Linked DNA regions of Homo sapiens: region 2 is linked to region 1. Evidence: fine-mapped expression QTL. A gene starts in region 1. The other region holds a variant in brackets. All regions are shown on one strand. Distances are from middle to middle. Region 1 holds the start of PCDH1 (protocadherin 1). Region 2 overlaps PCDH1 (protocadherin 1).

Evidence for each region.
Region 2: its variant is fine-mapped to the expression of PCDH1 in whole blood (INTERVAL, PIP 0.94).

The regions. Positions count from the first base shown.
Region 1 is chr5:141,870,056-141,884,701 of GRCh38, reverse strand. PCDH1 (protocadherin 1) reads left to right here and starts at 6,292. Exons shown (of 5, transcript NM_032420.5): 1 at 6,292-6,479. The coding sequence starts at 6,440. RefSeq lists enhancers at 1,382-2,264, 6,294-7,043, 7,310-7,994, 11,097-11,819.
Region 2 is chr5:141,844,776-141,859,421 of GRCh38, reverse strand. It overlaps PCDH1 (protocadherin 1), which reads left to right. Exons shown (of 5, transcript NM_032420.5): 4 at 1,951-2,170; 5 at 4,986-6,332. The coding sequence ends at 5,380. Among named protein-coding and RNA genes, the nearest start is that of PCDH1, 26 kb to the left of the region's middle. RefSeq lists silencers at 9,497-9,746, 13,024-13,318 and enhancers at 9,397-9,953, 10,307-10,396, 10,512-11,068, 11,825-12,646. The variant C/G (reference allele first, on the strand shown) is at 6,994.

The DNA of each region.
Region 1 (14,646 bases):
GTTCAAGTAACTCATCCAAGGTCACCTGAGTAGTAAGTGGCAGAGTCAGGATTTAAATGTTGACTTGTCCGACTTCCAAACCAGTGTTTCTCACCACTATATTAAATGTATTCCTAGCCAGGCACAGTGGCTCATGCCTGTAATCCCAGCACTTTGGGATGCTGAAGCGAGCAGACTATTTGAGGTCAGGAGTTCGAGACCAGCCTGGCCAACATGGTGAAACCTGTCTCTAGTGAAATATAAAAAAATAGCCAGGCGTGGAGGCGCGCAGCTCTAATCCCAGCTACTCGGGAGGCTAAGGCAGGAGAATCACTTGAACCCGGGAGGCAGAGGTTGCAGTGAGCTGAGATGGCGCCACTGCACTCCAATCTGGGCGACAGAGTGAGGCTCGGTCTCAAAAAAAACAAAAAAAAACAAAAACAAAAAAATTCCCCTTTGAGTAAAGGGTAGGTCTATACCCCTCTCGTTTACCACCCCATACACATAAAAGTTTGGCAAGGACCACAAAAGACATGGTACCAAACCTAGCCTATTAGTGAGGAGAGTACTAGGAGTGGAGGAATGGGGGCAGGCTCCCGGGCTGAGGAAGGACCATATTAAAGCCTCATCTTCAACAACACAAAGAAAAACAATTTGAAACTTAATCATCTCCCAGAATTATGATCCCTTCCCGCAGCGGGGAGCACATTAGCAGAGCTGAGAAATGATAATTCAGCAGCCCCCAACCCAGCAGGGAAGGAAAGAGAGGAGGAGGGAGGAGAGCCGGAGGAAAACAGAAACAGAGGCACAGAGAAAGATGGGGAACGCGGGGAGAGGCAAGGCCTGACCTCTCATGGCTCTTCTTCCTGCCCAAGTCTGAGACAGGGTTCCAGGAAAGTGGGCTGGTGGCACTTGGCCCTTCAATTGTGCCCAGATAGGGCAGGGGTCAAGGTGCTCCCTAGGTCAGTTCTCAGCACCGATGGATCCCCACGTTCGGAGCTGCATCCAAGCTCATCCGGGCCAGGCGTGGTTTAGTGGTCTTAGCCTGGTTGGGGGAAAGCTCCCGAGCCACCAGAGCTGGCTCTGAGCACCCGCTTGTCCGATGGCACCTAGGCGAATCAGCGGTCCGTCAGGACCCGAGGCGCTGGACAGCTCCCGGTCCCAGAAATGGTTCTCCGGAGTCCAGCAGTGAGGTGGGGTGAGGCTGCCCCCGCGCCGCGGCAGACCCCACCCTCCGGAGAAGCGCGAAGGTTGCTGGGAGCTCCTGGGGAAAGGGCTCGGGGTCGTGAAAGGGTCCCGATGGAGATCTGGTGGGGACCTTGAGACTGGAGCCCCGGGGGCAACTTCTCCAGACGCATTCCTTCCTTCTGAGTCCAGACCCCTTCACTCCCCACACCACCCCCCGCTGGGGACAATGGCGCCTTCAGCCCCCAGAGATGAATGGGGCCTTTGAGAGCCGCATGCCACGGGGTCAGCGGCGGCCACCGGGTCCCCGGGGGCTGCCCAGCCTCCAGATCAAGGAGACTCTGGTCAGGGAGAGTGGGGAGCTCTTCGGGGAAGAAAGGAATTCCATGGTCCCTTTCTTAGAGACTAGTGGGCCCCGGAGAAGAGATTCATCTGGATCAGGCAGTTCCTGGTAAAGAAGGATTTTAAGGGGGTGGGGAGGGAGGAACCCCCACTACCTGTGGCAGGGAAGGGGAGATTCTGTGCCCCTTCCTCAGGAGGCAGCAAAGCCAGCTACCAAGCTTTTGCTACCTCTTCCCCCCACTCCACGCTCCATCCCGCCTGGTTCCCCAAATCGGGGTCCCACCCTCAGTTTGCATGGGGCAGCTCCCCGTTTCTCTCGGTCCTTTCATCGGGGGCTGTCCCTAAGGCTTGGTCCCTCCTTCCTGCTCCTGTCTCCCCTCCGATTCTTGCACTGCACAGCCTACCCAGTTTCTATGGAAACAGGCTGGGAAGGCACTGCCAGGAGGCCAAGGCCACTACAGCTCTTGGGGGGAGGGGAAGATAGAAATGGAAAGAGAGACGCAGGAGGCGAGTTCTGGCCATTCCCGGAAGCGGGTGGAGATCTGTTGGGAGTGAGCCTTCACTGCCAGAGGGGTGGGGCAGAAGGAGAGGTGTGATTAAGTGATGTGACTGAGACAGAGTTGAGGGGCTCCTCCTCATTCCCCCAATTCCCAGTGCTCCAGACATCTAGACAAGCCTCCTCAGAGGGGAAAGTGGTGGATGAAGAAGGAAAAGAGACAGGTAGTACCAAGAGCTCTGCCCATTTCTAACTTATGTGAGGCTCTATCCTTTTACCCCTCCTGGGGACATGCCCACTTGAGAGGAGGTCTCCAGGGAACTAGAAGGCTCCCAAGAAGTGGGAGGGAAAATTGGAGTGCGGTGTGAGTGGTCAGGGATGTTCAGGAATCTCCCCTAGGAAGGTGAGCTAGAGGTGGGCAGAGGCCTCGGAATGTCAGCTACTTTTATGGTACCCCTCTCTGGCACCTCCACTGAGGAGTTGGTAGGGGGCTGGAGACTGTCAGCTTCCTCCCCTCTGTTCATCCCATCAGAACGTTGGGCTATGAGAAAACAAAAGTGGCCTAGTGGGGGTTGGGTGCACAGAAAGGGAGATAAGCCTAAGGCAAGAAGGGCCAGAAGAGGGGTGGGTGAATGAGTGAGTGCGGATGCTTGTGGCTAGGGCAGGGAGGGAGCTTCTTAGAAGCTTCATCTGCCAGCTCCTGGGAAGTGATCCCCAGCCCTCACCCTCTCCCGATGCTCCCACCTCAGGCAAAGCTGCCCCTTGGACAGGAACTATTGGAAATCTCAGAGTCCTGGGAGATTGTGCTGTGGGGGATTCCTTGGAAAGGGGCCTTCTAGGTTATCAGAACGTTCAGCAAAGCTTCCCTGGGGGAGAGGGGTAGTGAAACAGGTACCCTGGAGCCTAGGGTTTCCTGGATCTGAGCCATCGGCTCTCCCTGACCATAGTCCCCAGAACAGTCGTCTTGGTGTTTGCTTATTTTGGTTATTTTTTGATCAGATATTTTGGCACTGAGCACACTGCCTCCTGTTGCCATGGCAGCCGTGACAGGGGCTGAGGCACCGTGAGAAAAATACCAAAATTAATGAGTGAGCGAAAGTGCAGCCGAGAGAAAAACAAGGTTAAAAAAAGAGTTAAAACAGTAATGAAAACAGGCTTTCCAGCTCCACAGCAGAGCAGCTGCTGAGGCCTCCCCAGAGCAGCAGCCCCCACCCAGCCTAGAGCTCCTGGCATCTCCCAGACCTCAAGGCAGGACTCACTTGGCTTCCCCCACCCAGCTCGTCACTGACCCAGCAACAGCCACTTGGGGACCACCCTATGCACAACAGTAGATCAGCTCCAACAGTACATCAGCTTCCATCTCAGGTAGTATCCTGCCTCCCAGAACAGCTTGTCATCTCCTAAACAATAGAGTCTCAGCCACAGCCCCCACACAACAATGGTCCAGCAAAATTACCAGGAAATGGCCTCCTAGCTACACCCAAGCTTTAAAGTTATAGCTGCAGGCATCCCAGCTAGAGTCCAGCACACAGTAACAGCCCAACCACAATTCTGAGCAACAGCATCTTAGCTATAGCCAATCCCCAGTATGCTGTCATCACAGCTACAGCTCCAGGACCAATAGCAGCTCAGCTACAGTCCTATACACAACAGTAGCTCTGCTCCTATCCCAGGTAACAGCCTGTCTCCCAGGTACAGGCTCCTCGCAACAGCCTCTCATCTCCTAGGACCTAGGCAATGGATCCAGTTACAGTCCCATCTACATCATATTAACAGGGAACAGCTTCTCAGCTACAGCCAGTCTCAGGTGTGCCAGCCTCATATCTATAGCTTCAGGCCCAACAGCTTATCAGTTACAGTTCTCCCTCAACATGCACACACACACCCATATACACACAGCTTGGCGATAGTTTCTCAGGTAATCTTATTGGCTATAGCCTAGGCACACCAGCATCAGAGCACTGCAACAGTGTCCTAAGTACAATCAGAGGCAGCAGCCTTGGTGTTACAGTTCCAGGCCCTACAGCATCCTAGTTCACTTAGCCACAGCCCATCCCAGGTACACGGATATCACAGCAAGCACCCCAACCATTCCCATACCCAGCATCACCCTGGTTCCAATCCCTGGCCACAGTCTCAGCTGGAACTCAGGCACCATCAGTTTCAGGAGCCTCCCCCAGTGCTTCACTTGCCAAGCAGGTCCTCCTCCCACTTTGGTACAGGGCCAGAAGTCTGACTTCTCTCCTCTTCAAATGCCACCTCCCTTGCTCCCCAACCATCCTCCCAGTCCCTGCTTGCTCACCTGCCCTCTTTCCTGGGGAAAAAAGGCCCCAATTCTCATATCTACATTGTCCCTGACTCAGGGGCACAGAGCCCAGCCTGGCAGCTGGGGTAGGAGGGGCTGGGGAGCAGGGAGAAGAGTAGGCACACCCTGGTGCTGCTGCTGTGGCCCAGTTCTGCTCCTACCACTTGGTGCAGAATTTGAGTTTGATGGTGGTGGAGCAGGGAGGATGGAGGCGAACATCTGGGAGATTAGCATTTCCTGCCCAGCTCTGCGGCTGCTGATCCTGCTCAGCCCTGAGCAAGGGAGGAGAACAGAGGAGCCTTTGAATGGCTCCCAGCAAGCAGACTGGGGAGGGTTTGCTGCATTGGGCAGCGGGCACACGCTGGGGGCAGGGAGACCGGGGCAGCTCTTCTGTGGAAGATTTCTTCTCTCTGGGCCACTGATTCCCTCCTCGGAGCTGTGCTCAATGATGTGGAGAGTATGAGCTTTCTAGAGACAGAAAGAAGCTACTTACAGAACAGACCCACCCCCCTCTTTCACCAGATTACCCCATCTCCCATCTAGAGCCCTGCCCCTGGGCTCCTGGGGCTGAGGGATAGAGCAGAGCCCAGGTCAGAAAAGGAGTCCAGTTAAGCAGGGCTGCTCTGGGAGAGATCTTGGACAGACTTTGCTTGCCCTCTTAGCTAACCAGAGATTCCACTTTTACCCTGAAGAGCATCCCACCGAGAGAGGCCAGAGCTGAGAAGAGAAGGAAGTAGAAGAAAGAGGAAAGGCACAGAAGAGTGGTAGGAACAGGAAAATGGGGAAGGACAGAGATGGGGAGTCAGAGGCTATGGCAAAAAGAGGCCCAACAACTGGTCATCCCATAACAAGAGCCTTTCCTCACCCAGCACTAGGCCTGGCTAGGGATAACCTTCCTCATTCTTTTGACCTAGAACACTCTGCCTGGGCCTGCAGGCGAAGAAGGCAGGAGGTCCTGTTGAACTGGGACACTTGGTAGCCTGGGTTACCAAACCGCAAGCGCAGGAGAGGGAGTTCCCAAGCTACTCAGAGACCTCTAGATGGCGCCAGAGAGCCAGAGCTGAATGGGAGAAACCGAGTATTGGAGTGTGTGAGACACTGCGTGTGACACCGTGTGTGATTTGGTGTGAGTGTGATAGGGAGCGTGTGGCACTGCGAGGGCGTGTGACACAGGCCGTGACACTGCGCGGCCTCGCGGGGCAGGGACCCGGTGACTGTATAATGTAAGTCACTGGCAAATACGTGTGGCCGCAGCACTACGCCGTGCAGAGGGCAGGTGATCAGGGGACCCTCGAATAGCCTAAGCTCAGGAGCAGCACTTCGTCTTCACGCTTGTGTATCTTCCCCATCCTCACTCTAGAGCCCCCGGGTCCCATTAGCCTCCTCCTCCCACGGTCCCCTCCATAGCCCCACCCCCACGGCTTGCTGCGGCCACCGAGGCTGACCGCTCTGCGGCTTCGGCCGGAGGGGGAGGGGTGGACTTTCCCCGAGCGCAGCGGGAAGGGAGGGCCACACAGGGCGATCGGGGATCTGGGCGGGAAGAGGGTGGATATGGAGGAGCAGGTGCCCAGGGAAGAAGGCGCTGTGGGAGACACTTCCCTTGCCTCGACTTCCCAGGGGGCAGACAGAGCTGGGGACAGGTGTTTGAGTAGGGTAAGGAGGGGAATCCAGGAGCGGTCCTAGATGGAGGCTTGGGTGGGATAAGTGTAAGGTGAAGCTCAGAGGAGGGCACGGCCTGTGTACTGGGCCTCGGGCAGTGAAGAGATGGCAGAGGGAGGGGTCCAGGCTTTGGGGAGCGGTGCTCGGGGTCCCCTCCCAGCCGGACCGGAGCGGTCCCGAGCTCCACCTCCCGGCCGGAGGGGGGGCGGGGAGGCGGGCGGGCCGGGAGGGAGGGGGGAGGGAGGGGGCGGGCCGGGCTGTGCGCTCCGCTCTCTGCTGGCTCCGCCGCCGCCGCCGCCGCCGCCGCCGCCGCCGCCGCCGCCTCACACACTCGGGGAGCGGGAGCGCGGCGCGGACGCAAAGCCGCCGGGCTGCTGCGCCCAGAGCCAGCCGGAGCCGGAGCCGGAGCCCGAACTGCAGCTCCAGCCCCAGCCGTGCGGAGCCGCAGCCCAGGCCGGGGCCGGCGGCGGCTCATGGACAGCGGGGCGGGCGGCCGGCGCTGCCCGGAGGCGGGTAAGGATCCGGCGGCGGTGGAGGCAGCAGCGGCTTGGGGCCCGAAGCGGTCATGGCCGGCGGGAGCTGAGGGAGGGGCGCTCGGCGGAGCGAGGCCGCGGGGGCCCAACACGAGCTCGGCGCGAGGGGGCTGAGGTGGGGGCTGCTGGGAGCCCATAGCAGGGGATGCGGCTGAGGGATTCCGTCCTCCCAGGTCCGCGGCGAGAAGCCGAGGGAGGGGAGGGGGTGCTGAGCAGAACCCTAGTCCCCGCGTCCCAAACCTGGGCGCGCTCGGAGAGACGGGGATAAGGAGACTCCAGGAGCGCGCGGCGTGGAGGATGGGTTTGGGGAAGCGCGCGGCCCCCAGTTTGGTGGGGGTCTCCCGGAGGACGGAGCAAGCAAGGACCGTTGTCCACAACACATACATACACACTTGTTGGGCAACTACCTCGGCTCACTCAGCCGCTTCCAGCTTCTCGCGGGCACCCAGAGGGCCAGACCGTGGACATATATACACACATACATACATCCCTGCATATGTGCACACAGACATACCTCCCGCACACCAGCGCCCACTGGGGCACCGTCGCCAGCTCAGAATCCGCTTCAGTGTCTGCACGATCAGCAGCACCGACACACAACCCGTGGCTTTACAGAGCAATAACACAACCGGGTGTGACACCCCGCGACGTGGACACACAAACACAATCTCGTGCCCTCATGTACGAGTGTCACAGCCACAGTTCACTAGATGAACCCTCAAAACCTAGCCACCCCCCACATTCCTTTAAGGAACACACCCTAGCATATATCATCTTACCCACTTCTTGGCCAGAACATAGGTACACAGCACAGGTCTCCTTGCACCCCTCTACTGCACCCACACAAACACACAACCCAGTATCTCAGCACACGCTTGATGGCACACACTCTAACACAGGAATTGGCACCTACAGCAGCGCCTCACGGTCACAAACACAGAATCCACTGCTTCACCCATCTTAACACTGGGTGTCACACACACCTTAAACCAACAGTGTCACATTACATTACACCCTGCAGCGCATACACACAAACACACACACTCCGTTCCTCTCTCTCGGAGTCCAGATTCAGGCAGGAGAAGCCGCCGGGGTCGTTCGGCGAGCCCCAAGCGCCCCGCCACGTTAATCGCGACATTATTATTGTAAATATCGGCACAGCGGGAAGGCTGGGCCGGCCTGCCGGCTTCCCAGTCGGCGCCTCCCCAACCCCCACTCCCGGGCCGAACCGGCTGGTGTTCCGGGAACAAGCTGGACCTGGCTGGCCAAGCCATCCCGCCTCCCCGGAGCTCTGGGGCCCCAGGTTCCTTTGTAGAGGGTGCTAGCCTGGGACGGTGATTGCGACCCTCTTCCAGCCATTTAGCTGAGTTTTCTGAGCCACCTGGGTCTCCAGCACACCTGGGTCCCACACACCTTGGTGGGTCCCGCACACCTGGGTTCGTCTCACACCTGAGCGCCCCCTCCGCCTGGTCCCCGCTGTAGGCCAGTGTGTGCGCGGGCAGGCCCTGGAGCCAGAACGGAGATCGCGGCAGGCATAGGAGCAGAATTTGTAGGCGAGGTGGTCTCGCACCCCTTCCCCCCAGCTACCCTCTGTAAGTCAGAATTCTGGCCTCAGTTTCCCCAACAGTGGTCGGCTACTATTTCTTCTGCCAGGAAAGACTGGGGGCGGCACTGAGGCCTTGGAGGATTGAGCGTAGGGCAAAAAACCCCCTCTGCTCGCCACGAGAGGGTCGGTTTTATGAGAATGTCCCCGCCTAGCCGGGTTCGCGGCTTTGTGATTCCGGCGCCGGCTCCCTCCCCGCCCCCTCCTGGCGCCCGCTGCGCCGCTCGCGCCGGCTCCGGCTTGCGGGGGACCCTAGGCCGAGGCCGGAGATGCCGGGGAGGAGGGATTCCCCGCGGTGGCCTGGGTGCGGGGGGCGCAAGGGCTCCCCCCACTAGCCGAAGCGCGTTCTCACCACGCCGCGCCCTAGCCTTGCCTTGGGTTCCTGGAGGCTGGGCGCTGCCGGGGTGGGGGTGGGGCCGCCAGAGCCCAAGAAACTGCCGCCGTCCCCCCCGCCACCCCCTAATCTCCGCAACACACACACACACTCGGCGTCCTCTGGGAGGAGTCGCTCCGCGCGCTGGGTGTGTGCTGGGAGCGCCCGCTGACCAAGGCGGTGCGGACTGGGGCTGCTTGGGTCGCTTCGTGCAGGAAGACGCCGCGAGGCTTCTAGCACCTGCTCTGGGTCAACCCTCGGGAGCTGCCAGGGAAGGGGCCGCCCAGAAAGTTTTTATGACAAGCCGGAGGTCTAGCTGTGTTTGTAGGGGGTGGGGGGCGCGGGAGTAGGTGGGTGTTACTTTATTGACGTTAAGGTCTGGGGGAATTGGAACCTGTAATTACAACTAGACTAGGGCATGGGGTGGAATCGAGGGGAGAGGCAGACTGGCCCCCAGAGGTAGCCAGAGGCAGTGTGATAGGGAGGCAAGTCTGGATTCAGTTCTGGCCGCATTTAGTTTTTACCCCTTCTCCTACCCACCTCCAATTCCCAATTCCAAAAGGGACTTCAGCTGGAAGTGGGTGTCTTGCTGGTCTGCCATCTTCTTAGCAGAGGGGCTGCTGCTGTGGCTACTTCTGCAGGGGAGCTGGGCAAGCGATAGTAAGCTAATTGCTGAGAAGGGGGTTGAAGGGCCAGGAGGGGGCCGCGAGGGTGGGGGAGGAGCTAAGTGGGAATCAGGGTTCGGGGAGGGGTGTAGGGAAAGAAGAAGGTGAGGGCTGCCCCTGCCGTGAGCAAGGATAGTTGGTGCAGAGATTCTGTTCAACAATGTATTGAGCACCTTTTATCTGCCAGGGTCCATGGTGGGTGGTGAGGATGCAGTAGTAAGAGACATACCATCATTGCCTTCATAGGACTTACCAACCAGCGAGGGGATTGGCTTGTTTATTCATCGAACCAAGGAGCACCCACTGTGTGCCCGATGCTGGAAATAAAATGGTCTATTCAGCAATTAGAAGACTTAGAAAAAAAAATGATTTGTCCTTTACATGTAATGTAAATAGACCTTAATGTAATAGACCTTATAGGCATGAGATCTCATTTAATTCTCCCAAATAATTTCAAGAGGCAGGTTTCATTATTTCCATTTCACAGTATGGAAACAGGTTCAGAAAAGTAAATTCACTTGGTTAATGTCACACAGCTAGGAAGTGGTGGAGCGAGGGTTCTAACCCCAACGATCTGACATGCAGGTGCCCAGAAGCCCTGCAGAGGCTAATAGAGGGTTGTGGGAGAGAGGGGAGAGGAGCTGAGGTCTGCACACTTGCTCTCTGTGGGAGGCTTCTGTTCAGCTCCACCCCACGCAACCCCATTTTCTTCCCCTCTCCCCGCGACAGTCCGTTTGTCCCTTGGTGTTTTGTGCCCGCGGCAGTGACCGTTGTGTAACAGTGCTGGGGTGAGGGTGGGGAGTCAGAGCTGACCTGGCTACTGGGACAGTGGTGGCTGCCTCTGTGTGTTTTTTCTCTGGCCACAGCACTCAGCAAAATGGACCTTGGTCCCCGGGGTGGGCTGGAAGTGAAGTTTCCGGGTGAACTCTCACCTCTGTTCTCATCCCTTCCCAGATGTTGACACAGACAGTATTTCCTTCAGCTTTTCTGGGACTCCGTCCCCTCCTTATCCCTTACTCCTACACCCCTGACGGCACTTCTGCTCCTCTATCTGAGGGACATGGGTCCCTGCGCCTGTTCCCCCTCAGGCTCTGGCTTCTCAGGGTCCTGGGTGCCCATGTCACTGGGGGGAGGTAGGGCACCGTTGCCCAGGAAGGCAGCCAGGGCCCGGGGAAGGGCAGATAAGGCGCTGCATGTATCAAAGGCTGCTGTGTGGGATTAATGACTCCCAGTGCCCAACTGCTGGGGACAAAGTTCAGAGATGGTGGGAACACGGGTGAGGGAAGGCCTCCTTATTGCTGCTCCTGCCCTTCCAGGCCACCCTGGCTCTCTTCCTGCATTTCTACGGGCCCCTGGGTGAACAGCAGCAGCCTAGGAAGCCTGGGCTGGTTCATTCCTTGACCCTTAGGCCCACTGTTTCTTATTCCCTCCTTACGGGGCAAGGTTGGCAGTCCAGGAATGGTGGGGAGGCGGGTGTGACATAACAGGAATCAGATTCTAGCCTCAGATATTTCTGTTTCTTTCCCCCAGACTCTGGGATGTGAAGAGGCATTCTTGTTTCTCAAGTCCTGGTTCTTCCACATACTACTTCTGTGACTTAAGACAGTTTATTCTTTCTCAGCCCCCATTTGATCATCTGTAGTATGGGAAGGAGTGTAATAATAAATACTACCCATTTGAGAGGGTTGGGAGGAAAGAGATCATGTGTGTAAAATGCTTAGTACTGATAAAATCTTAGTGTTTGCTGAGATGATGATGATGATGAGTGATTATGATGGCAAAGGTGATGATAAAAGTTTGCAGGGGCTGGGCGCAGTGGCTCACGCCTGTAATCCCAGCACTTTGGGAGGCTGACGCAGGAGGATCACGAGGTCAGGAGATCAAGACCATCCTGGCTAACACGGTGAAACCCCGTCTCTACTAAAAATACAAAAAAAAAAAAAAAAAATTAGCTGGGCATGGTGGCGGGCGCCTGTAGTCCCAGCTACTCGGGAGGCTGAGGCAGGAGAATGGCGTGAACCTGGCAGGCGGAGCTTGCAGTGAGCCGGGATCGCGCCCCTGCACTCCAGCCTGGGCAACAGAGCAAGACTCCGTCTCAAGAAAAAAAAAACGTTTGCAGGACCGGGCCAGGCGCGGTGGCTCACGCCTGTAATCCTAGCACTTTGGGAGGCCGAGGCGGGCAGATCATGAGGTCAGGAGATCGAGACCATTGTGGCCAACACGGTGAAACCCCGTCTCTACTAAAATACAAAAAAAAAAAAAAAAAAATTTAGCCGGGCGTGGTGGCACGTGCCTGTAGTCCCAGCTACTTGGGAGGCTGAGGCAGGGGAATTGCTTGAACCCGAAAGGTGGAGGTTGCAGTGAGGCCAGATCGCACCACTGCACTCCAGCCTGGCAACGGAGTGAGACTCTGTCTCAAAAAAAAAAAAGAGTTTGCAGGACCTCAGGCTCTTTCTTAACTCCCTGGAATTATCTCAAAGTTGTACCCAGATGGTCCGACCATTGCATCACAATTGCTTGGGGGTTTCTCTAGGTCCCACCTCCTGAATAAAGATTCCTAAGGGTGGGGCCAGATAATCCTCATTTTGAAGAAACTCTCCAGATGCTTGAAAGGCCTAAGCCCTCTTCAACTCCTTTCCCCACTGTGAGCAACTCTCCCCCAACCCTGTTTTCCCCACATTCCTCCTACTTTCTGGGACCTTTCCCCAGCCCCGCCATCCCATACCTTCCTTGAGCTGGATATTATCCTGTGGTTCTCCTTCTCTTTCCAATTCAGAGGTTAGATACCACAGTCCTTAATTGGTTCTTTTGCTGGTTGAAGGTAAGACAACTCCTCAGGGTGAGAAAGAGCGTGTGGGGAGCGGAGGTAGTCTCACAAGCATGTGTGCCTGTTCTGCCTAGGAGGTTTGAAAGGTTATAGGGCCTCAGGTTGTGACTGTGAGATGGAGGAAGCCTGAGGCAGGGGCTTAATTCGTAGCTCTTGGAGTGGCCACACATCATTCGCCCTGACTGCCAGATCATGGCCCCCTGAATTAGCGGCTAAAATTTGTGAACAGTCATTTTTCCTGGAAAAATCTGTACCATGGTTTTATAAAATTCTTGAAGGAGGATGTGACCACAGAAGATTAACTATCTTAAGTATCCTCGATCTGGAGAGAACAGAGGCAAACAGTGACTGCCTTATTTATTCTCTTGGTCAGGTTTAGGGTAATTCCCGTGGGCTTCCCACATAACGCCTCACCTGCCAAGACTTTTGTAGAGAATTAGGGTGCACAGTGATACCACATTGTATATGCAGAGGAGGGTGGCAGCAGGATACAGTCCCATAAGAAAATGAGGTTCTCTGGTGATGGTCCTTTGACGATGTGTTTGGGTTGGGGTTGAAGTAGTCAGATGAGCCTTGTGCCAGGTCCATGCAGGTGGAGGGGGGGGGTGGGGGGTGGATCCAAATGGAGTACAGATAAATTCCTGCTTCCTTTAAAGAGATTAACATTCACACCAATCTGATAACGCCGCACACACTTTAGGGAGGGGCCTGTGCTTGGGGAAGGCCATACAGAGGAGGGGATGTGTTTGATTTATCTAAAGACTCTGTGCATTCAGTGAACATTTGCTGAGAGTCTACTATGTGCCCTAAACAGAGAAGACTTACATTTTACCCCAGGAAGTTCTTAGTGGTGTAGGGGAATCGGGTAAGTGAGCAAGTAAAAGAGCAGTGGTCACACAGCAAGTACCAGGAAAGGCTAAGCCTAGAGAGCAAAATAACAACAGTCATTCAAGAGCTGCCAAGTGCCCACTGTGTGCCAGGTCCAGGGCTAAGCCCTGAGGAGGTAGGAGCAAACAAAGTAGAAACTCTCCTGCTTTCTGCTCACCATCTTGGAGCAAAGACAGACAATTAACACATTTTCCAAACAGGTACACAACTACAATTGTGCTAAATGCTTTGAAGGAGTCCTTTGTTGAGTACCCACATTTAGCCCACAGTATCTCAAACACCCTAGGAAATAGGTAGTATTATCCCCATTTTACAGGTAAGGAAACTGAGGCACTAAATCTTTGCTTCAGGTCATGCAGCCAGGAAGTGAGCAGCTGGGTTTGCCTCAGACTGTCTAATGCCACAACCCTCGCTCTTCTCCACCCTGCTGCCTTACATTCGCCAAATGGTATACAGAAGCAACCAAACAAAATGGACAAATAGTCATTGAGTTAGAAGCACTGTCATGGCAGATTGGACCAGTCTTGTTTACTTCTGCATCCCAGTGCCCAGGACAGAGCCTGGCATATTGTAAATGCCCAATAAACATTTGTTGAATGCATGACTGAGTCCCTACAGTGTACCCAGATGTGCAAAGGTGCATTGTTAGGGGGCAGGGGATGAGTGAGTGTACAGAGTACTGTCCCTTCCTTCGTAGTGCTTTGTGTTTGCCTGGAAAGGCAGAGAACTCAGGAATAGGTGCACAATACTGAAGCTGAACAACACAGGCGGGCGGTGTCCCAGTCAGCCCCATGATTCATTGCCTTGGGATTGGAGCAGACAATAAGTGGCTGTGAGTTGGAGGAAGGAGAGGTCACCGTGGGCAGGAGAGGACTGTGAAGGTTTCCTGGAGGGCCAGAGCCTGCCCTCAGTGGGATTGATGTGGGGTGGGTGTTCCAGGTGTGGGGAAGGTATTCCAGGTAAAAGTGAGGAAGTGGGGAAAGGAGACTGAACCAGAAGCCTCCAAAGAAACTGCTGATCCAAAGATTTTGGATTTGAATAAAGGAGGGACTGGCCATGATTTTGTTGGAGAGGAGGGGGCATTCAAGACAGAGACAGTAGCTGGGTCTAGCTGGGATCTGCAAATGCACGACCTCAAAGCCAGGGGAGATGGGCAGAAGAAGGGGGTTATTGTTGTGATGGGGTACAGCTTGTGGTTGACTAGGGCAGAGGTTGGGAGAGGCAAGTGTGAAGTAGGGGCTGGATATACGGAGATGGATGTCAAATAAGAGCCAGATGTTCATCCAGAGACCAGAGGGTGTGGGGTGGGGGAGTGGCCAGGGAAAGGCTGCTGGTGTCATTATCATCGGCAGCTCTGTCCCAGTTAGACCTGCTGGGCTCCCTGTTGCTAAGGACAGGCCAGGGCAGCTCCCAATGCCAATTCCAGGGCTAGTCAGCCCTGACCACAGTTCTGACCCCAATCTTGACCTGTGTTCCCTTGTACGCACCTGCCCATGGCAGCAGGAGGGAGAGGAGAGGAGCCCTAGCAACTGTGCATGTTCCTGTGTGCATGCTCTGGGGCATGTGTGCATGCTCTGGGGCATGTGTGCACGCTCTGTGGCCTGTGTGCACGTTCTGGGGCATATGTGTTGGGGGAAAGTCGGGAAGGCTAACACCTACTCCTCAACCCTAACCATTTTCACAAGCCTTGCCCAATTCAAGCTGGCCTTTTATGGGGGTGGAGAATACTGGGCACCGTGGGTGATTGTCAGAAAAAGAGGATTTGAGATGTCATACCTCATGCATATGCAC
Region 2 (14,646 bases), 25 kb after region 1:
TTTATAATTTGATAGTCATAAAATTAGAGGGAACATTAAGTGTTGGGTATAACCCAACCCTCCATTTTATGGAAAAGAATCATGGGAAAAGAGACCAAGCGACTTGCTTAGTAGGCAGGACCAAAGCCTTCAATTACCAGATATGGGTTCTGCAGGGAGGTGGGACTGCTGGCCAGTATCTTGAAAGAAAACTGGAAAGAGAAGCACCAACAACCATGTTGCCCTGTGCCTCCCAGACCCCTCCTGGACCCTAATCACCCCTACACCAGGTGGACTACACTCCTTTATAGCCTCCCGGCCCCAAACATCCATGTTAGTTTTGGGGACCTTATCAGTCATCACCCAGACCCTTCAGTGTTTTAGATCAATACAAGGATTCCAAGAACGGTCGCTTATTCCTGAAGATGAGGTGGGAGCCATCTTCAGGAATGGGGATAGTGGGGAGGCAGTTCTGGGCTACCTTCACAGCAGCTCCAAAACTCCTGTCCTGACAGCCTCTTCCACCCTAGCTGCCTTGAATGGGGCTATTAGGAGGGTAAGTCTACAAAGCCAGGGCCACCTCCCCTGGCCATCTTCATAACCTCCTATCCAGAGTTATAGAGTAAGACAAAGCACTGCCAAAGTCTTGGAGGATGGGAAGGAGCTTAGAGACTCATCAGCAGGGCCCTGGGCTTAGCTGTTTTCACCCCTGGCCTCCAGGGACCCTGAGTCTGCACCCTCCACAACTCCTAATTTCTGGTTGGCAGGAAAATCTGTGGCAGTCCCAAGTGGGTATTTGGGTGGCTGGCTGGTTGTGCCAAGTGCCAAGTTGAGATTGCCAGGTTCCAGGGCTGATCGTTAACCTGTGGCAGGCATACAGGGCTGCTGGCTGGGAGCAGCCTGTCACGGTTCCACTCCCCCGACCCCCAGTCCCCAGTCCAAGCCTCCAAGTCTGGCTCCTCATGCCAGCAGCCCTCCCAGAAGCTCCTTCCTATTTCCTGGAAGGAGTCTCCCTTTGAGACCAGCTTTCCTAATCCCTAATGGGTGCCATGCCCTCTCCCCATGTCCAGGCTCCTGGCAGAGCCCTACCCTCTCCAGTGAATATTCTATTTCCTGATCGGGAGGACTGGGGAGTTTCCATTGTTCTGCTTTGTCCCCTTCCCCCAGGTGCCCTGGTTTGTTATCAGGCTCCTCCCTTTTTTTCCACTCCCAGGCCTCTCTGGAGGGGAGTGAAGTGGGGATGGGGGGCTGAGTGGGAGGGGCGACAGCAGGGAGTCTTCAGACTGCTGCAACATCACAAACCAGGGATGAGGAACACAGGATAAGAAAAGAAAGGTTGTTCCCTCATTTGGAAGGAGGCAGTGGCAAGAGCAGTGAGACAGGTGAGGAGCTGGAGTTTGGAGGGTGCTGTTTGGAAATGAGGGAACTAACTGTTGTGGTATTGGTGAGCTGTTTGGGAGTTAGGAGTCTGCTTCTTTTAGGAAGCTGTTCTAGAAACTGCAGGCTATGCTGGTGTTTAGAGGCTGAGCTGGAATTAGGGGAGTCGGGTGGTATTATGTTACTCTGGTATTGGGCTCTACACCGTATTACAGGTCATTCTGGGATTAAAGGGAGGCTGTGCCAATATTGGGAAGCTGGGTTAGAACTAGAAGGGTTGTGCTATAACAAGCGGTTGCACTGGATGAGGGTTATTGGGGTAGCATAGGGGCTATAATAACACTGGGGCCTGCGCTGTATTGGGACTTCCAGTATGTGGACTTGGCTGTACTAGGAGCGGTCCTAGAACTCAGGAGCTGTCTTTCACTGGGGCCTGTGCTTTCGGGAGGAATGTGCTGTGCTGGGGCCTGGGTCTCTTCTTGGTTGCTGTTGAAGCCTGAGTAGGATGGTGCTTGGCTTGTACTAGGGCCTGGTATGGTGGTGGGCCCTGTGGGCAAGCTGGCTGGTCAGTAGTGACAATCTGTCTCCCTGCAGTTACCTCACCGCCGCGTCACCTTCTCGGCCACCAGCCAGGCCCAGGAGCTGCAGGACCCATCCCAGCACAGTTACTATGACAGTGGCCTGGAGGAGTCTGAGACGCCGTCCAGCAAGTCATCCTCAGGGCCTCGACTCGGTCCCCTGGCCCTGCCTGAGGATCACTATGAGCGCACCACCCCTGATGGCAGCATAGGAGAGATGGAGCACCCCGAGAATGGTGAGGCGCAGCACCATGGTCAGGGCACCCCAGGAATGAGTGGAAGCCTGGGAATGGTGACAAGGCCTTAAACAAATCATCTATGTATTGAGTTATTATGTGCTCAGTCATCATCACCGTGCTGAGGGCTTTCAGGTATACACGCATTTAATCCCCAGAACCACTCTGTGATTTGAGAACTTTATGGCACCCACTTTACAGTGGAGGAAACTGAGGCTTAGAGAGGTTAAGTCACTTGCCCAAAGTCATACATCTAGAACGTGACAGACCTGGGAGGGATTCAAACCCAGGTTTCTCTGACTCCAAAGCTGTTGCATTCGGCACCATGTTTACACGGCCACCTGGGAACAGGGACCCTGAGTGTGGTGGCCAGAAAGCTCACGTAATGGTGAGGAAACCTTGAGAAGGTGGGTGGTGGTCCTCTAAGGTTGGGAAGGCCTTGAGAATAGAGATTGGGCCCTGGATGCTACAGGGGGCTCAGAGAATGGAGTGACGATATGCTGGGGTGAGGAGTGGGAGAAGGTTTGGCACCTCTTTGAGGAAGAGCGCGGTAGGAGGTCTGGTGAAGAGAAAGGCCTGTCTGGGAGGGATTTGGAGGGTGATGGCAAAAAGGAGGTGTGAGCCAGCGCAGAGGTCGGCATGGGAATGGATGGTGAGGTGTGCCGTCAGTGTGTGTGCAGTGCGTGTGCATGTGTGAAGTCGTCCATGGCAGCCTGTGGAGGGGGAGAGTGAACGAGCTAACCCCTGAGATGGAAAGACTCTCTAAGTTGGAGTTGTCCTCGGGTCCCACCCACTCCCTCAACTCAAAGCCTCCTCGCTCCACAAAAGATGGGAGGTTTCACTCCCCTGCCTCAGGCACAGGGCCCTTGTCTAACCTCCCGGGCCCTTGTCTAACCTCCCAGGCCCTAGGTCTCAGAGTGCCCTCCACCCCCACCCCGCCCCTCCATGCGCGATCTCATGCCCGTCTCATCCTTTTTGTGCCCGCGCAGAGCCGGCTGGCCGGAGCAGGCCCTGAGGCAGAGTGCCAGGTATGTGGGAACTGCTCTGGGGTCTGGGGTCTGTGGGACTCTGCCCAGCACCCAGCCTCACCCACCCAGTGCCCATGCTCTGCTCTGAGCCATGTTGCGTCCCCCAACTCTGCTCTGAGCTGTAGAGCCTTGGCACTTTGAGGGTTAACAACAGAGCTGTCCCCTCCTCACCTGGCACTGGCAGGAGGCCAAGCCATAGTGGGTGGTGCCAGGGGAGCCCCTGTCCCAGGCAGTGTTGCTTAGCCATGTCCCTTGGGGGTGGGGGGGGGTCACTGCCTGGTGCTGTCCCTGAGCAAGGGCAGGACAGGGACAGCTGTGACAGGAAGTACTCATGGCCCAGCCGTTCCCATGGAGACCCCCGCTGCCCAGCAACTACACCGGCTACTGCTGATGTCAGGCAGCCAACTCCTGTTCCCGTGGGTGTTCTGGGCAGGGAGCTGGGGCAAGGCCAGGGGTGGTGGCTGGTTTAGGGGCCAGAGTGAGGTGGGGAGGGGCTGCATGAGCGTGCTTGTGGATGTGAGTGTGTGCCTCTATGTGAATACCCCACACAGAAGCTCGTCCCTTCCCCCTGGCTTTAAAGCAAGGTCTTGCAGGAGGAGGGTGGGTTCAGGACCACCGGGAGCATGTGAAGCTTGAGGGGGTTCTGAAGGAAGCAATGTACCCAATTTCATCTGAGGATAGAGGTGCCCACTGTAGTAGATTTGTGTATCCATGCCTATCTGTGTGTGTGAGAGGGAGAGAGAGAGAGAGTTGATTGTGTCAATCAATTCAATGAGGATGGAGGTTTCCTCAACCCCACCTGAGGATAGATTTGCACATTTAAGTCTGTCTGGAGATAGATGAGGCAGTGTGTAGATGAGTGTGTGTTTGTGCACCTGTCTGAGGGCAGATTTGGTGGGTGTGTAAGAAGAGCACTGGGGGGTAGGTGACGCTGGAAGGAATGTGTCTATTTAGGGCTTGGTGGCTCATGCCTGTAATTCCAACACTCTGGGAGGCTGAGGCAGGCGGATTGCTTGAACTCAGGAGTTCAAGACCAGCCTGGGCAACATGGCTTAAACCCCATCTCTACAAAAAAATATAAAAAATTAGCCAGGCATGGTAGTGCATGCCTATAGTCACAGATATTTGGGAGTCTGAGGTGGGAGGATTGCCTGAGCCTGGGAAATTGAGGCTGCAGTGAGCCAAGATCACACCACTGCACTCCAGCCTGGGTGACAGGAGTGAGACCCTGTCTTGAAAAAAAAAAGGATAAGGCTGGGTGCGGTGGCTCATGCTTGTAATCCCAACACTTTGGGAGGTCAAGGTGGGTGGATCACCTGAGGTCAGGAGTTCAAGACCAGCCTGGTCAACCTGGTGAAACCCCATCTCTACTAAAAATCCAAAAATTAACCAGATATGGTGGTGGGCGCCTGTAATCCCAGCTACTCGGGAGGCTGAGGCAAAAGAATTGCTTGAACCCGGGAGGTGGAGGTTGCAGTAAGCCGAGATTGCGCCATTGCACTCCAGCCTGGGTGACAAGAGCAAGACTCCATCTCAAAACAAAGAAAAAGAAAAAGAAAAAAGATAGATTATGTGTGTGTGCGTGTGCGTGTGTACAGTAGGCCAGTAGGTCGATGGTGGGAGGGCATGTGTCTCTTTGAGGGTGTGTGTGCCTGTGAGTTCAGCGGTCAGGAAGGGGCGCATACTCCTGTCCTGAGGTGGGGTGTAGATGCCAGTGGGAGGCCATGAAGCAGAGCTTTGCAGAGGCTGTATGTCTGACAATTGTCCTTCCCCGCTCCCTCCTACAGACCTTCGCCCTTTGCCTGATGTCGCCATGACAGGCACATGTACCCGGGAGTGCAGTGAGTTTGGCCACTCTGACACATGCTGGATGCCTGGCCAGTCATCTCCCAGCCGCCGGACCAAGAGCAGCGCCCTCAAACTCTCCACCTTCGTGCCTTACCAGGACCGAGGAGGGCAGGAGCCTGCGGGCGCCGGCAGCCCCAGCCCCCCGGAAGACCGGAACACCAAAACGGCCCCCGTGCGCCTCCTGCCCTCCTACAGTGCCTTCTCCCACAGTAGCCATGATTCCTGCAAGGACTCGGCCACCTTGGAGGAAATCCCCCTGACCCAGACCTCGGACTTCCCACCCGCAGCCACACCGGCATCTGCCCAGACGGCCAAGCGCGAGATCTACCTGTGAGCCCCCTACTGGCCGGCCGGCCCCCCTCCCCCAGCCGCCGGCCAGCTCCCAAATGGCCCATTCCAGGGCCTCACTCTCCACCCCTTCAGCGTGGACTTCCTGGCCAGGGCCCCAAGTGGGGGTATCACTGACCTCATGACCACGCTGGCCCTTCTCCCATGCAGGGTCCAGGTCCTCTCCCCTCATTTCCATCTCCCAGCCCCCAGGGGCCCCTTCCCCTTTATGGGGCTTCCCCCATCTGATGCCCAAGAGGGCTCCTCTGCAATGACTGGGCTCCTTCCCTTGACTTCCAGGGAGCACCCCCTCGATTTGGGCAGATGGTGGAGTCAAGGGTGGGCAGCGTACTTCTAACTCATTGTTTCCCTCATGGCCGACCAGGGCGGGGATAGCATGCCCAATTTTAGCCCTGAAGCAGGGCTGAACTGGGGAGCCCCTTTCCCTGGGAGCTCCCAGAGGAAACTCTTGACCACCAGTGGCTCCCTGAAGGGCTTTTGTTACCAAAGGTGGGGTAGGGACGGGGGTGGGAGTGGAGCGGAGGCCTTGTTTTCCCGTGCTGCTCCTGGACTGGCCCACCTGCCTGCCACATGCCCACGCCTAGTCCCATCTGGGCCCCCATTCCCTGCTGGTCATGCAGTGTCTGTATATAAGGACCTTGGAATGACGTCCCCATTTCTGCCTGATTTGCAACTTTTCTTGTTGATGTCGTGTTGTCTTGGGGGACCCCTCTGGGGGGGGACCTGCCCTGTGCCCCCTCCTCCCTGCCGCAGTGCCCCCCAACCCAGGCCTCTATTGTTCCATGTTGTAAATACCCCTGGGGCCATGGTGGGATGGGGGTGCAGGCCAGGGAAACAACGGGTGGGTGGGGGTGGGGACGGGGGTAACATTTGCCTATCAGCAGAGCTGGGCTTTTATTTAATTTTTCTTAAAAATACAAATCTCTATTTTTTTGGAACTGTTGCGCTGTGCCCTGGGGGGATCCCCGCTCAGGCTGGCCTCCCACATCCAGATGAGCATCACAGAGGGGCCCTGAGGCTGTGGGGGGCAGCTGGACAGGGGTGGGATGACTGTGCCTCTGGCCTGGTTGGGTGAGTTGGGAGCAGGAAGGTTTGCTCAGGGGGTGGCTGGGTGCTGCTCCCGATATAGGGGGCCTGCATCCTGCCCCCTCCCTGCCCTCTCAACCCCCAGCCCCTGCCATGACTGACCCGTCAGCCTGTAAAACCACCATTGCCTTGATCTCAGGGGGTGGGAGGGCTGCCTCAGGGCACCCTGGGCTCCAGGCCCCCTTCTTCCAGTTGGGCTTCCCTTTGTCAGGGTCAGGGGTCCCATGGGGGAGGGGGTAGGGAGGTTGGGGGGCAGAGAAGCCCAGTCAGCCATGATGAGGTGAAGTTCTCTTCTTCACCTCAGGGGGCCAGGGTGTAAGGGGCGTCCTGCAGAGCCCCCGTCTCCCACTGTGGCCATCTCAAAGCCTCAGCCCCTCTTCCTTCCAGAAACCCCCACTGCCTTGGCCCATACCTCTCCAGCTCCCTAGGGGCCCAGGCTGGGAGGCTGGAGACTCAGGGTATGGCCCTTGCTTGACTTAGTCTAAGCTTGGGGAGGTGGTCCAAGATTGCGAG[C/G]GGTGGGTACAGGCTGCGGGGTCGTCTGGTGCCTTTGGGAGCTGTGCTGCTGGGGTCTTGACTCTTGTACCCCAGAGACCCCACCCCCACCCCGGAAAAGCCAGGGGCCTGAAGAATCACCCTATTTATCTGCCCCTTACCCCCAACTTGGCTTGGGGTGACAGTGCTAGGAAGGAGAGCATTGTTAGGCTGGTAGCCCTGGCATACGAAGCCCTTCTACAGAGGGGAAGGGGTAGAATGGGATGGGGTGGCAGCAGCCAGGTCTAGGGGTTGGCCAAAGGCTCCTTTCCCTTGGGGAGGCCCAGGAGATGGGCTTGGGGCTTGTTAAAGAGACAGCCCCTTTCCCCTGCACAAATGGGGCAGGTGCAATAGTCTTGGAGTTGGTAGTATTGGGTGCCCAGCTGGTGGAACAGTGGCCTCAAGGATTGTCCTGGGTCCTGGAGGTCAGGATTCGGGCAAGAAGATTGTATGAGGCCCATTTGCTTGGTGGAGAAGGTGGTCCAGACAGGCGGCATTCCTGGGGTCAGTGGACTCCCACTGGAAGCCCCTAGTGGCCTGGGTACCTTGCCCTGGTCTTAGAGACCCCTGAGCACTGAGCAGAAGAGCAGAGGAGCATTTTGCACAATGGAGAAGCCAGAAGAAAGAGGGTGGCCCAGATGGCTGGGAGAGCTGAGAAGCCCTTCCCACAGGCAAAGACAGAGCCCCCAGCCCCCTGGTTGGGGCCAGGGCACTGAGTCTGTCACCAACTGGGCACTGGAGAGATGAAACCAAAGGTGGGCAGGGGTTGGCGACAGCACTGGGGACTATCCCTGTGGGTCCTAGGTCTGTGAAGCCCCTCCCCAATGCCTGTGTCGCGTACAGTTTTATGTACCAATAGGCGACATTTGGCCAGAGGAGAGCCCCCCTCAAACCCAGCCTGACCCAGTCTGTGTCTTCCCAGAGGGGACCTAGTCGGTCCCCATCCCCCTACTTCAGGGCATGTCTCTCCGTAGGGGGAGGGTATATGGGGACATATTTCTCTCCTAGGGTCCTTGAAGCATGTTTCACATTCCGGGGTGGGGGGAAGTTCTCTGGGCATCCCTCACCTCTGGGGTCTCTCTAGGCCCTATCTCTCCCCTTGGGAGTCTCCGGGGGACATGTGTTCCCGCTGAGGACCACGGGAGCATGTCTCCCCCAATTACCCAGGCTCTCTGGGGAGCCTGTTTTCCTCCCAGGGTTCCTGGGAGTACTTAAGGCAAGTCAGTTTCGGGCCATCTCTCTTCCCAGGGAAGGGGGCTATCTCTGAAACACGTCTGGGAAGGGATGTTTCTGGCCCTACCCCCATCTCTCCTATGGGGGTTTCTCTGCCCTGCAGCACTTTAGGATGAGGCTGGGCATCTCTGAGTTGTCTTTTCTCCTAGGAGCCCTGGGATACCTCTCTCTCCCGAGGGTAGGGCCTCTGGAGCCATTTCTTCCCTGGGTCGGGGCTGTCTCCGGGTGTTGGGAGGGCTTGTGTTGGCCATGAGAAAGTCTCTTAAGGGGCGTCTCCACTGGGGACTTCTCTGGGAGGGGGGACTGTGTCCCGCCCATGGGGTTTCGGGCGGGTGTGTCTGCCCATGGGGAGGGGAGACTGTGTCTCCTCGGGTTATCTAGTGGGGAGGGGGGCCGTGTCTCTCTCGTGTGTAGGGGGGTGGGGGTCGGGGTGGGGGGTTTTGGGCGCGTCGGGTGCCCACATTGGGGTCGTGTTTCTCTTGGTTCGTGCCACTTCCCACTGCCTCGCTCCTCCCGGGAAGGGCCCCCGCCCCGCCCCACCCCACCCCATCCCTGGCGCTGCGAGCACAATCCCGTTGATTTGTAATGATTTCTGTCTCTTTCTGTCTTTCTCTTTCTCTGACCCCCCCACCCCCACCCCCACCCCCCCCCACCCCGCCGCGAGCATGCGCAGGCACCGCCCCTACCCCCTCCGGTTCGGTTCGTTTCCGGTTTGTTTGCTGAGCTGTCAATGAAAGACCCGTGTAATTATTCCCGAGCTTTACAATAAAAGTGTGAAAACCGGACCCCACTCAGCTTCTTCCGGGTCCTCGGGCCTGCGTCCCGTGGAGAGTGGGAGCTAAATCTGGAGGCCTTGGAGAGGGCTGGGGGACGCGAGGGACAAGAGACTGAGACCCGCACTGGTATTAATCGGGGATGGGGTCGAGCTGACGCGTTCTGAGGATAGACTCCTAGTCCGTACACCTCAAAGTGACCCCTGCCGGATCCTCTGGGCCCGACCTGCTGTGGGCACCCCCTCCCCGCAAGAACTCAGGTGCAGGATGGGGTGGGAGGTGACCGCAGGAGAGGTTTTGTGCTGCGCTGCCTTCTTCCCCGGGCGCCCGCAGGACGTGCAGTCGTTCCCGGGTGTATCCATTCCCGCTCCCCACTCTTTGGCAACGAGTGTGAATTGCGGAACTGGATAGGATAAGGGGCGGGAGACATCTGTCTGTCTGCCGCGTTCTCCCACGCTCAGGAACGAGGGTTGGAAGTCGATTTAGGGGAAAGGAACCGAAAAGGTCTCAGCCTCGGTCTCCGACTGCGCTCCCCTCCCCCCTTCCGGGCTCGACCGGCCCCGGCCTCCTCCGTCCGGCTCCCGGGTAAACACCCGCTCCGGAGAGGTCGGAAAACAGAGACCGGATCAGCCGGTTCCTGGCCCCGCCTCCCGGGGCGTTGCTCCCTCCTCCGCCCCTCCCCACCCCCACACCCGCCCAGCGTCGCGCGCTTTTGCTCGACCCGCGCCCTAGCTCCCTAGGCCGGTACTGTGTGGGCCTCGCTCCGGACCCCGGGGTCGGTCCAGCCGCTGGGATTAGCCGACCGCAGGGACTAATCCCGGATGAGCCTCGTGTAAACCCGGATCGACAGCGGGGACGGCGGGGGTTGCTGGCACCCCTTCATCCGTTCCCAGACGCGGAGCATCACGGGGCATAGAGCCCACCCCGAGGCTCCTTGCTGCTTTCGGAGAGACCCGAGTTGGATCTGCAGTTGGGGGCGTGGCGGGGCAGGAGATGAAGAACGCAGGGCCGGGATCTGACGCGCCGAGAGCCTGGCGCGGGGTGACTGGGGTGTGGGGCGGAAAGGCAGAGATCTCTCGGGCAGTACTTGAATCTACCGGCTTAGGTCAGCTCCCTACTCAGTCTACAACCGAAGCCCCCTACCTATCCTCCAGTTACAGAATCACAGACCCTCCCCCTACCAGTGGGTGTGGCAACCCTTCCTAAACCTGAGGCCTCACCTCATTAGGAGAGGCGCTGAATCAGCGGGGGAGGGGCCCGCATTGTCTCCACCCCTGACTTGACCCCACAGTGAAGGGTGAGGAGTTCCTTCTGTTAAGGCCTAGCCCAGGAAAAGATGTCTGGAGTTAAGGAAGTTGGAGGAGATGTGGTGGCCGACTGGGTACCAGAATCCTGTCACTGGTTGATTAACTCATTCTACAAACATTTCCTGAGCCCCTCCCATGTGCCAGACCGGCACAGGGTACTGGACCCCAAGAATGACACACAGTCTCTGTGGGAAAGGCAGACAGGTAAACAATGACCACATCTTGTGTTCGGCCCTGCCTTGAGCCGGAAATTCTGGCAGGAGACCTAAAGGCGCTGTCCTCTCCAAAGTCTAGAGGCTTTCTGGAAGGGGTGGTGCCAGAGCTGAGTTTCAAAGGGCAAATGAGGGATAGGCTACTGAGGAAGGGGTCAGCCTTGCAGGCTGAGGAGGAGTATGTGCCAGGGTCTGGAGGTGGAGGAGGAGGTGAGGTGGCTCAGGAGGGCAGGAGAAGTTGGAGAAGAAGGCAGGGGCCAGAACTAAGGACCTGCTGGTCAACTTAAAGTGCTTGGATTGAGGGGTTGGAGAGGAGCCATTTACAGATTTTAAGCCTGTAAAAGAAAAGGTCAGATTTACATTCTTCCAGATTCTGTGTTCCTCCCTTCCCTGCCCCAGGTTTCTCTGGGGATGCCTGGGTTGGGAGTGGAGATACACAGGCAGACAGGAAGAGGAACCAGGTGCAGTTTAGGCTGGTTAAGAATGGTCCCTGGCTGGTCGCGGTGGCTCACACCTGTAATCCCAGCACTTTGGGAGGCCGAGGTGGGCTGATCACGAGGTCAGGAGTTCGAAACCAGCCTGGCCAACATGGGGAAACCCCATCTCTACTAAAAATATCAAAATTAGCTGGGCACGGTGGTGCGCACCTGTAATCCCAGCTACTTGGGAGGCTGAGGCAGGAGAATCATTTGAACCCGGGAGGCAGAGGTTGCAGTGAGCCGAGATTGTGCCACTGCACTCTAGCCTGGACAGCAGAGCAAGACTCCATCTCGGAAAACAAACAAAAGAATGGTCCCCACTTTCCATCAAACTTGGAGTCAGAGAGACCTACGTTAGAAATTTGGCTGTACTTATTTCTAGTGGCATGACCTTGGGTAGGTGGCTGAGCCTCAGTTTCTTCCTCTGTAAGGTGGGGATAATAGTGCTTACCATCACCAAAGGTTATTGTGGGGCTTCAATGAGATAATTTGTCCACTTTTTTATTTATCACACGTCTAACACCTACTAAGTGGCAGGCACTGTCTCAGGTGCTAGCATTATGGTGCTGAATAAGACAGGCATGATGCCTACTCTCTCTCTCTGGGAACTTGCATTCTAGAGGAAAAGACAGACAATAAACAAATAAATGAGATAATTATAGATTGTGTTAAAGTGCTGTGAAGGAAACAAACAGTGGGACAAGAAGGAGGATAACTGGAGGTGGGGGAGGGGAGGGGGCTGCTTTACCCAGCCAGGGAAGCTTCCCTGAGGAAACCTGAAGGTTGGCCAGTGTACTCCAGCCTGGGCAACAAGGTGAGACCCTGTCTCAAAAAAGAGAAAAAAAAAAATAACCCTGAAGTTTTAGAGCTTGGCAAAGAACATTCCAGATACAAGGAAACTGCAGGGAAATTGCCTTCAAAGGCCCTGAAGTGGGAGAAAAGAGCATAGCCACAGTACTCTAAGATGCTAAGATTCCTCAGGGCAGTTACCTGGGTTTCTTTTCTTCTAACCTTCTGGGCAAAGTGAGTAGAAATGGAGGGGAGTTGGCCGGGTGTGGTGGCTCACGCCTGTAATCTCAGCACTTTCGGAGGCTGAGGCGGGCAGTTCGAGACCAGCCTGATCAACATGGAAAAACCTCGTCTCTACTAAAAAAAAAAATACAGCCGGGTGCGGTGGCTCACGCCTGTAATCCCAGCACTTTGGGAGGCCGATGCGGGCGGATCACGAGGTCAGGAGATCAAGACCATCCTGGCTAACATGGTGAAACCCCGTCTCTATTAAAAATACAAAAAAATTAGCCAGGCTTGGTGGCGGGCGCCTGTGGTCCCAGCTACTCGGGAGGCTGAGGCAGGAGAATGGCGTGAACCCGGAAGGCGGAGCTTGCAGTAAGCCGAGATTGCGCCACTGCACTCCAGCCTGGGTGACAGAGCGAGACTCCGTCTCAAAACAAACAAACAAACAAACAAAAAAATTAGCCGAGCATGGTGGCGCATGCCAGTAATCCCAGCTACTCGGGAGGCTGAGGCAGGAGAATCGCTTGAACCTGGGAGGCGGAAGTTGCGGTGAGCCGAGATCACACCATTGCACTCCTGTCTGGGCAACAAGATTGAATCTCGGTCTCAAGAAAAAAGAAAAAAATGGAGGGGAGTTTCCATCCTGCTGGGCCAAACCCCTTCCCCTCCAACCCCATCCCCTGGAGTAATATTGGGGAGATGTGGGCTTCATCAGTCAGCCCATCTGTCCAGCTTAATCTTCCACCTGTTCTATAGCTGCCCCCAACCCCCCTCCCAGTTTCAGGACAGGTCTCAGCCCGCTATTTTCCCAGTGGGTTCTGGGGTTCCTAGTCCTCTTGGGCAGGCGGGGCAGGTTAGGGCCCCTCCAGAATCTGCCATTACAGATCCTGGATGAAACAGAATTTAGTATCTGACCTGCAGGGGCCAAGGGGTGGATGTTTCCCAGATGAAGATGACCAAGGGGTTTAGGGGCTTAGGCCTTTTAGAGTTTCCCCCTTGGCCTGGGTCTCACTTCAAGGAGGCGGCCTGGATCCCTGTCTGATTCCCCCTCAAAGAATGCTTCCTGTAACATGGATACATTTCACACACAGCCGCCCGCCCCTGCTGCAGAGCGCACACAGCTCCTCTCACACACACTCACCATCCAGCTGCACCGTGCGTCTCCATGGCAACCAGTAGGCCTGGTCCACGGATGTTAGAAATAAGTGCCAGAGGAAGAGGAGAGAGAGAGGGAGAGGGAGAAGGGAGAAAGAGAAATAAAGAGACTTAGAAAGATAACCTCCCAAGGAGAGCCCTACCCTTTCCTTACAACCCTGCCAGGAAGACGTGAGTGGATTCGGGCCCTGAGGACGGAGGAGCTCAGGGTGGGGACTAAGCAGTAGATTAGGGGCTGTCTGGACACAGGTAACGGGGCACAGTGGGCAGTAAGGAGTGGGCAGAATCAAGGGAACTTTCTTGACAGTCTGTAGTCTTGGGATAGGAATACTTGGTCTAGGTGAAAAAGGCAGATGGGGGTGGGTGGGTAGGGGTGGAAGACTTGGGGAAGCTACTTTCTCTTCTTCCTGGCCTAATTGGCTGTTCGGGCCGAAACCACCTCTTAGTCACTTAGTCTAATCAGAATTGTTCCGGAGAAGACAGTCGGGGAGGGGAAGGAGAAGCAGGGGTGTGAAGGGGGAGGGTGGGTGGAGACAAAGCTGGGTGAAGGTGGGGGTGGGAGTTCCTTCTACCACCTGCCATCCATCCTATCGCCACCCAGTGGATGGGGTGGGCTGTGACTATACAGGCTGATGGGTCTCTCTAACAGCCTCCCAGCTGCCACTAGCACCCCTTCACGCCCACTTGCTTTTTACTCTGCCCCTTCTCGTCTGTCTCCATGTATCTCTGTCTCTAGCTCTAGCTCTCACTCTCACTCTCTCCTGGTCACCCTGTCTAGCTCCTCACCTTCCTTTCTCCCCTTCCTGGGAGTCTCCTGACCTCTGGCCACCAATATTTGTGTATGGAACAGATAAAGGATATAGGATTGCTAATCTAGGCCAATCCACTGGTGAGTGGAGGAGGAGCAGGGGGAGGGGATTATACTGAAAGGAGCCCTGTCTTTGGGGAGAAAGAGAGAGTAGGGTGGACGCTGGCCTGGCACGACTCCCCTCCACATACCCACACAGGTCAGGGTGTGTGTGTGTGTGTGAGTTTGGTCTGGAGCTGGACGGGCTGACTGTCTCAGACAAGTTACTTAACCTCTCTGTGCATCACTTTTTCTAACTATGAGATGAGGATAATACATTCCAAAAATGCAGTGTGGATTTAAGGTGAGAATGCACGTAAGTTGCTTAGCATGGTATATTGTAAGGGCTCAATAAATGGCAGCTTTTATCATCACTCCAGACTCTTGTCCTTTCTCCGGGGTCCTTCTGGAGCCAGGACAGCTGCATCTTCCAATCCCCTCCTCCTGCCACTGCTTCTCCATTCTTGGGGGCCCAAATTGCCTCTCAGTTCCTGGACCCATCCCCCTTGCCTGGCTCCCAGGGCTACTCACTATGGTGTCCCCGTGTAGGGGATGAGGCTGGGATCCTGCCCTCTGCCCACAAGGTCTGGAGGGACACACTTCTTCAGTTTAGGG